Regions from separate parts of the Homo sapiens genome. Here region 2 is linked to region 1. The links come from fine-mapping of genetic effects on gene expression. A gene starts in region 1. The other region holds a variant in brackets. All regions are shown on one strand. Distances are between the middles of the regions.

Region 1 (4,398 bases):
ACAATTTCCATTAACTCGGATTACTCAGAAAAGGACAAAACCCAGAACACTTAAGACACACGTAAACTTTATTAGCATGTAATTTTCAATACAATGGCTATTATATTATAAATACATAATATAAATATTTATAAATATAAATATTTTCTACAATGGCTATTATACTATAAATAGCCATTGTAGAAAAAAATGTTCCCTTGAAGTCGCATGAACCCGAATTCAAAAAAATTTTATTAGGATACAAAGATTCCTGGTAGAAATTTGAAGTGGTCTTCAAATTTCTCTCAGCAAGTTTCAAAATACTTGTCGTACTCTGAGAGTTAATTAGCGTTATAACTGGATGCTTCTCAATAGTTTCAATCAAATCTTAAGTAGAGTTCTACTAAGGTGGAAAATGGAGTGGATAACAATCTGGGCAAGCTATGCCAAAGCTTTTTCTAAAGAAAGTGTACCTAGTTAAAATGCTGTCACTGACTGTCAGAAAACTATAGCTCCCCTCCCGTGCATCCTCCATTAATTTTTCTTAACCCATCTCCACTTTCTCTATTCTAGTCCACATTTCTTCCGTCTAGAAATGTAGAAAAATCCTTTGGCAACCCAGGTAGCTTCCACAAGTATCATCTCCAAGTGTTTCTTCCTCTGAAATTCCACCATTAGAGATTAGAGATGAGTAGGAAATGCTGAAAGGCGAAGGAGGATCTGAAGAAATTTTACATTTTTTTCTCAGTTTGCCAAAAGTAGATACTCCCTGTATAGATATTCCCGTATAATCCAGGGAAGGTAGTCCAAGACCGTGGGGCAATTCCAAGAGGTGGTTTTGAAGTCCTTCAACTCTACCATTTTCATTTTATCCATACTAAAAAAGCTACGGCAGGAAGAAAAGACAAAGGACATTCCTGGGAGGCCAACTGGACCTAATCAAATAAAAACACTTTAGAAGAGGTACAAGAATCAGAAATCAAACCTATCTGCAGAGCCAAAAGCCATTCTGAAACTCCGTGTCCTAGAAACAAGGGTTTCCCATCTTTTCAAATATTTTAAGATAAAAATCGCAACACCCTATAGGAAAATGGCTATATTTTTAGCAAGAATTGGTGGAGAAGACAAACGATAATAAGCTACTATGAATCCAGAAGCTGCTTAAATGGCCGTATTCACAGCAGCCCTTGCAAACATTAATTAGAGTAGTACCCATTATGGGTGAGGACTTTTTTTTTAACCACAGAGAATATCTGTGGGTGCATCCAGATTGCTCAGTGGTTCCGTTTAACCCACCCGGTAACTGGCAATCATGGCCCTAGGACAGGCTTCTCCACCGGGGCGATGCTGCCTCCAAGGGGCGCAATGTTACTTTTTATGCATCAAGCACGGATAACACATACAGCACATAAGCAGGTCGACAGTGTATCTGCGGTACTGGGATTTCACGGGGAAAGGAGATGGGGACGTGTAAAAAGCCTTTTTAAGAGTCAGATAACGAAAAACGGAAAAAGAGGAGAAACACGGTCCTACAAGGGTCCTGAGCTGAGGCCATCAAATGAATGTACTGACAGGTATTTTTCTCCCAGGCAGCCAACTGAGAGTCAAGGCACTCTGACCGTGCTATGACTCCGGCCACACAGAAAGAGGTGTTTTCCCCTCGGTGGCCTCCAAGCGCAGCGGGCACTGCGTGCCATCCGCTCCCTCACCGGGCGCCCCGCGCGGATGAAACGGAGCAACTGGGAAAGAGCTCTGGAAACTGCAAAGCGCTGCGCCAAAGCGACGGGAGGTTCCCATTCTCAGCTGTACGAAATCCCGCGGGGGTCCTCCGCTTCCCCGAGCGACGCCCTCGGCCTCCGCACTTGTTGCTTCTGCGCCCCGCCTGCGTCCCCGTCAAACCCACCCTTCGCGGCCCCCTCGCCTCTCCACACGCTCGCACTCAGGCCCCGACCCTGCCCCGCGACCCCCTCACCCACGCCACGAAGCCCGCTCTGCGTGGCAGCCCCGGAGACAGCCGAGCCCCCGCCTCCGCCCCCTGCCCAGCTCAGGCCGCCAGCCCCTGCCAGCCGACGCCGCGGTTTCCTAGACAGCCGCGCCGCCGTTCCGCAGCCTCGGGGGCGCGCGCGCGCGGCCGGCGGGAGGCGAGGGCGCAGGCGCGGGCTCGGCCAAGCCGCCGGCGCGAGGCCTCGCGCGCGCCCCCGAGCGCGGTGGGCGGAGGGGCGGAGGGAGCGGCGGGGCCGCGAGGGGGCGGGGGGGCGGAGAGGGGAGCCCCGGGAGCGCGAGCCGCGGCCGGCGCCGCTGCAGAGCCGAGCGAATCCCGAGCCCGGGCAGCAGGTATGTGTCCTCGCAGCCGGCCGCGGCCAGAGCTTCCCCTGCCTCACTGCCCGAGTCTTGTGGTCGGGGCGGGGGGTGGGGGGACCGGTCAAGGTTTGCAGGATGCGTGCTCGGAAGGGCTGGGATCTTGCCGCTGACCTTCATCCCCCTGGCCGGGGGAGCCAGGCGAGGGTGCGTGGGGCAGCCCAGGGCTTCAGCTCCAGCCTGGAGACCTGCTTCTTGTCACATGCTTCTTATTTATTTTTGCAAACTGCCCTGGTTCGGGTCCAGCTGCAGATGCCTTACCTCCCATTCTTTGCCTCCGTGTGCCATCTTGCATTTATTAATAAAACATGCAAGCTGGAGGGGGGGGTTGCTGCTGGGGGGAATCCCATTGCAGTATGGCAAGCGGGCGCCTATTTTCGGTTTTCAGACGTGGTATAGAGGTGGAAATCCCACACCCTGAGGATTTGTGGCTTGGTTGGTCGTGACCACTTCCTAGTGGGCTTCCCCCGTTTGTCGGGAGGTGCCCCAGCGGCAGAATGGGCTGTCTGGAAGGGATGGTGGGTCTTCACCGTCAGGCCAGAATCCCCTTCAGGGGACAGGTGCAAGCTAGGGCAGGCAGTTCCCTGCTTGCTAACTTGCCAGGGAGGCTTAAACCTAGAAAATTGTCTCCCTTGATGGCCGAGAAAAGATGGCCTTCAACAGAATCCCTGGGACTTGCATACTCAAACTCATTACGGTTTTGCATCTGAACATGACTAAAGCTAGCCACCTGTTGGAAGTCAGACCCCATGAAACACCCCCGTAATCTAGCTCACCCATCCCTGTTTCACAGTCACCAATACTGAGCTAGCAATAGGCCCATATGGGTTCCCTCTATCCTCTTTAATGCTGCTTGGCTTTTCTTTTAAAATAAGACCTACCTATGATTTGATGCCCTATATGTGAGAGGTTGAAATTATATGATTTGTTTATATTCCATACACCTATCACATCATATCCTAAAGACTGAATTTCTCTTCAGTGCATGTGTTTATTTCCCTGGCTTTTCACCTTGCTTTGAACAACAGTGGGAAAATGGGATGTATATAACTGCTTACCTCCTCCCCCAAATACCTCCACCCTAAAATATTGTGATGAAAAGAATAGTAAGAGCTAGAAGCAAAAAATGAAAATGGTTATCACAAGATGTTGGGATATGATAGCTGAACCGTAATTGCTTCTAAAATGGTCAGAGTGTCACATCTAATCACGAGAAGGACATGTTTCTTAAATGTTCATATGTACCAGGTACTGAGCTAAAACTATTTGTGTATGAGCTCATTTAGTCCTCACAGCAAACCTGCTATGTCCATGTTGAAGATGAACAAGCCAGGACTTAGAAAGGTTAACTAACTTGCCCAAGGTCACACAGTCAGGGACAGGGTAAGGATGCAAACTCAAGCACATGGGGATACTGGAGGTGGGGAGCCCTGAGGGGGCTTTTCCTCCAGGTGCGGCTGCTCCGTGTACCTTTTCATTAAAATCAAGCTTATGCATGAGCATGTTGGCTTGGGTCTAATTTTCCATTTCATAGATTCTGCACCAACTTTGTGGCTTTCCAGTAAGAAAAGCAGTTGTTTCAGAATGGATCAGTATGGAATTTTTTGAGGTGGCACTAAACCTATAAAAAGTGGGGTCCAAGATGTGCTTCCATTTAATTCTCACACACAAGGAGTTGAGTTTAAAAAGTTGTTTCCCTCCAGATTTAAACCCATAAAACGTATATGCATTAAGTAGAATGAATCACTCCCATTTTCCATTATCGCATCCCACCCTACCCTCCTTGCTGCCCTTCACACTATCTTCTGGTCTCACTGCCAGTCATCAGAGCAACATTGTCTATCACACTTGCCTGTGAGTGCCTTAATGGGAGGAAGGAATCCATCCGTACCAGCCGTGGCTCGTAATCCAGTCTCTCTATGATTGTAGCAATTATGCATTCAAAGTTCTTGGAATCTCTGCATTCAGCTATGGATGTGTATTTAATCATTTTTTTAAAGTGCATTATTATAATGCAGGTATTGGATTTTGTTAAACATTCCTAGCAGTTCTCATGGACTT
Region 2 (4,398 bases), 220 kb after region 1:
AAATGTTGACTACAGCATCTTAAAACTGTGAATGAATATCTCATAGAATAGAGCACTGGGATGTAAGATTTTTTTTTAATGGACAAGACTGCATATTGTTTTGAAATATATAAAAAACATGTTTTCCTGCATACTATACAAGTTTAAACTGGCTGAGACTCCTATTCACTGAAAATCTGTATCACCTAAGAAATATAAACAGTCATTATCAACTGTGATTCAACTTTGAGACCAAAATTTCCTGCTCTTCCAAGTTTTAGACAGGCTTAACTGAAGAATATTCTAGTATCACTTATCTATGTAGAACAGAATTTTCTGAAATTGATACTATAAGACAAAATACAGAAACTAGGTGTTCAGGAAGATATAAGACTAAAACTGTCATTCACAGCTCCCAATTTCAAAATTCTGTTCATTAAAATAGGTTCATTGTTCTCATTGATTTTATACTCTCTAAAGGCTTTATGGAAATAAATCTTATCAATGTGAACTTATAAATCTGAGTTGATAAAATGCTGCTTTTATCAATGTTTTATTTGATGTAATATGACTTAATTTGATAAAATGTTCCACTGCTTTAAAATACTTGAATAATAAGCTGGATTTAAGAACTGCTGGGCATTTTACTAGGATCAAGAACTACACAGACCTTGTGAAAATGACATATTCACCATGGTACTGGCTAACTGCTCAGGAACACTGAGTAAGGTAAATCACTGAGATCACTGTTCAACAAATACATACAGTACTTATCCCCATAACATTTTACACAGCATATTTTATTGCAATACTTACTGGTGCTACTATTTTTCCCGTCTGTCCAACTTGCATGTCATTGGGAACAAAGCCAGCATCAACAGCAGCACGGGAAGCACCAACTAAGGGGAAAAAATATTTGTCATTTTTTTCAAGCTCTATTATTCAGCTAGTTAGGATATTCACTGATAACTGTAAACAAAGACATTGATTTAGAATTCTAAGTACTAGTATATTTTATACAGAAAGCTTCAAGGAATAACTTCTTTTTATACCCAAGTATTTCAGATTTTAATTTGGGCTTAACTCTTCTGCATGCTTTATCAAAATGGCAGTCATAAAATTTACACTATAATGTTTAGAATGTCATTATATAATGCTCCTTTAAGTAATAACTTCACAAGTTTTGAAGAAAGGTTTTACAATATTACCTCTTGTAATACTATAAAGAGAAGATACTGGACAAAGAGTTTCATATAACAAGATGAAGGTTTAACCAGTATTTGCTATCAAATTCACAAATAAAATTTAACAGACTTTCTATTCTCATTCAACAGGAGTCAACAATGAGCCCTATACTTGGAGTAAAACAACCCCTTCCCCAGCAGGAGTCAAGAATGAGCCTCAGGCCTCTTCATCTCAAGCTGAAAAGGACAGAGGGAGCCATAGACAATACAACTAACAACCTCCAAAAACGCACAGCCTCACCACCACTATCTTGAGTCAGCCAGGACTAATCACACCCTGCCCTTCATTATGTCTGTCCCCATAAGCCCCAAACTCAAAGGTTATCCTTCATAACCCATACACTGATCCCCATAATGCTCTGCATGCTCCCTAACCTGCACCAATCTCCCATATTCCTAACCCTTACACTGTGATTTCTGGAATATGGAGCCCAATATCAGCGAAACTTAAGTTATATTAAGTTTTATTAAAATGTAAGTTTTAGAACTTAAAACTTTAAGTGTATTAAAACTCAGGTTTTATTTACCTAATAAAACTTAACTTTAAATTGGCTCCATCTGAAATTAATATAGCTACTCCTGCTTTCTTTCAATTAGCATCACCATGGTATATCTTTCTCCACTCATTTACTTTATATGTATATGTATTTTTATATTTAAAGTGGGTTTCTTGTAGACACCATATAGTTGGGTCTTACTTTTTCATCCACTATGACAATCTTTATCTTTAATTGGTGCATTTACACTACTGATGTTGAAAGTAATAACTGACACAGTTGGATTAATATCTACCATATTTGTAACGGTTTTCTATTTGTTGCCCTTGTTCTTTTTTCCTATTTTTGTCTTCCACCAACTGAGCATTTTAAATAATTTCATTTTGTCTCTTTTCTTAGCTATTAGTTGTATTTTTGTTTTACTTTAGTGCTGGTCCTAGAGTTTGCAATATTCATTTACAGCTAATCCAAGTCCACTTTCAAATAACACTTTACTACTTCACAGGTGGTGCAAGTACCACTTAATAGCAA[G/A]ATAATCCTAATTCCTATCTCCTGTTTCTTACATTGTGATTCATTTCACTTATACATGAGCACATAAGTAATTGTAATACATGAGCATATGTAATTGAATACAATGTTATTATTTTAAACTGTTACCTATTAGATCAATTAAGAAAAATAAAACTTATTTTACCTTCACTCATTCCCTCTTCAATGCTCTCACTTGCTTTATATACACCAGAGTTTTTGACCTCTATCATTTCCTTCTCTCTAAAAGAACTTTTAACATTTCTTGCAAGGTAAGTCTATGACATATTCTGCCAATTTTTGTCTGAGAAAGTCTTTATTTCTCTTCCATTTTTAAAGGATAATTTCACAGGGTATAAAATCCTACATTGGTGAGTGTTTTCTCTCAGCACTTTAAACATTTTACTACACTCTCTTCTGCTTGCATGGTTTCTGAAAAGAGATCAGATCTAATTATTATCTTTGCTCTTGTACAGGTATGGTGGATTTTTTCCTCTGGCTTCAGTATTTGTTATTTTTTATTTCCTGTAGTTTGCAAATGATAGGCCTAGTTGAAGTTCTTCTGGCATTTCTCATATTTGGTGTTCTCTCAGCTTCCTAGATCTGTGGATTGGTATCTGACATTAATGAGGGGAAATCCTCAGTCAGATATTGCTTCTGTTCCTTTCTCTCTTCTCCTTCTAGTATTCCCATTACATGTTATACTCTTAGAAGCTGTTCCACAATTCTTAGATATTATATTACAGTTCAGGTTTTTTTGTTGTTGTTGTTTTTTTCTTTTTCTGGTTATTTTTCTCTTCGCTTTTCAGTTTTGGAGGTTTCTACTGAGATATCCTAAAGCTCAGAGATTCTTTCCTCGGCCATATCCAGTCTACTAAGAAGTCCTTAAAAGGTATACTTCATTTCTGCTACAATGTTTTTTATCTCTAGCATTTCTGTTTCTTTCGTGGATTTCTAGCCCTCTGCTTATATTGCACATCTTGCTTGCTTTTTATTCATTAGAGACCTTAGTATACTAATCACAGTTGTTTTAAATTTCCAGTCTGATTATTCCAGCTCAGTCTGGTTCTGATGCTTTCTCTGTCTCTTCAAACTGTCTTTTACCTTTTAGTATATCTTGCAATATTTTCTTGATAGCCCAACATGATGTACACGGGTAAAAGGAAGTGCTGTCAATAAGCCTTTATTACATGGTGGTAAGGTGTTGGGGGAAAGGAAGCATTCTACAGTCCTATGGTGACGTCTTGGTCTTTTACTAAGACCGTACCTCAATAAGACCATATTGAGACTGTGAACTTTACACATGCTTCTCAGTTCCTCTCTCTCCCTTAGGTGGGACAGGATGGCTAGAATGGCTGAAGTTGAGTATTTACCTTTCCTCAGGTCAGTTAGGCTCTGATAAAGCCCCACAAGTTAATCTCTGGTTAAACAGTTCCTCCTGAAGGAGATCAGACCTTGTTAAGAAGAACAGAATGCTCTGGCATATTTTAAAATGGTTCCCTTTCCCGTCCCCTTGTCGGAAGCATGAGGTGATTTTTCTCTAATTTTCACCATGTGGAAGAGCTCCTGAAGGTAAAATTCACAAAAATGTTGGGACCTCACACTGGATACCCCTGGAGTTTTTTGTCAAAAACAAAAACAAAAAAAAAAAACAAAAAACCAGAGTCTCACTCTGTCGCCCAGGCTGGAGTACAGTGGTACGATCTTGGCTCACTGCAACCTCCATCTCCAGGATTCAAGCGATTCTTCTGCCTCAGCCTCCCAAGTAGCTGAGACTACAGGTGCGTGCTGCCACGCCCAACTAATTTTTGTATTTTTAGTACAGATGGGGTTTCGCCAAGTTGGCCAGGCTGGTCTCAAACTCCTGGCCTCAAATGATCTGCCCACCTCGGCCTCCCAAAGTGCTGGGATTACAGGCATGAGCCACCGTGCCCTGCCCACCTGGAGTTTTTAACACGGAACCTCCAACAATTCATCAACAAGACTTCAAGTCCCCCTACCCCACCACCAGCTCCTGTGGAGGTTGCTACTTTTGGGTTTCTGCTCTGGGAAGTTGTGATTATCTGTATTTGCTTGTTGGTCTCTCCAGTTTGGGGGACAGCAGTTTGCCATGCAACCTCACTTCTCCTATGGATCTAAGATGAGTTTTG

Alleles and levels. Alleles are on the strand shown, and positions count from the first base shown. SD is a standard deviation of normalised expression in the study named.
For the expression in fibroblasts of the gene that starts at base 2,282 in region 1, G is the low allele of the variant in region 2 and A is the other (small effect, 0.23 SD a copy in GTEx).

The links. PIP is the estimated chance that this variant, and not a neighbour inherited with it, causes the effect.
Region 2: its variant is the best candidate, but not a certain one, in a credible set for the expression of TMEM266 in fibroblasts (GTEx, PIP 0.53).

The regions. Positions count from the first base shown.
Region 1 is chr15:76,057,704-76,062,101 of GRCh38, forward strand. TMEM266 (transmembrane protein 266) reads left to right here and starts at 2,282. Exons shown (of 11, transcript NM_152335.5): 1 at 2,282-2,313. It also overlaps a transcript of NRG4 not described here. RefSeq lists a silencer at 1,275-1,324.
Region 2 is chr15:76,273,617-76,278,014 of GRCh38, forward strand. It overlaps ETFA (electron transfer flavoprotein subunit alpha), which reads right to left. Exons shown (of 12, transcript NM_000126.4): 9 at 796-878. Among named protein-coding and RNA genes, the nearest start is that of ETFA, 36 kb to the right of the region's middle. The variant G/A (reference allele first, on the strand shown) is at 2,252.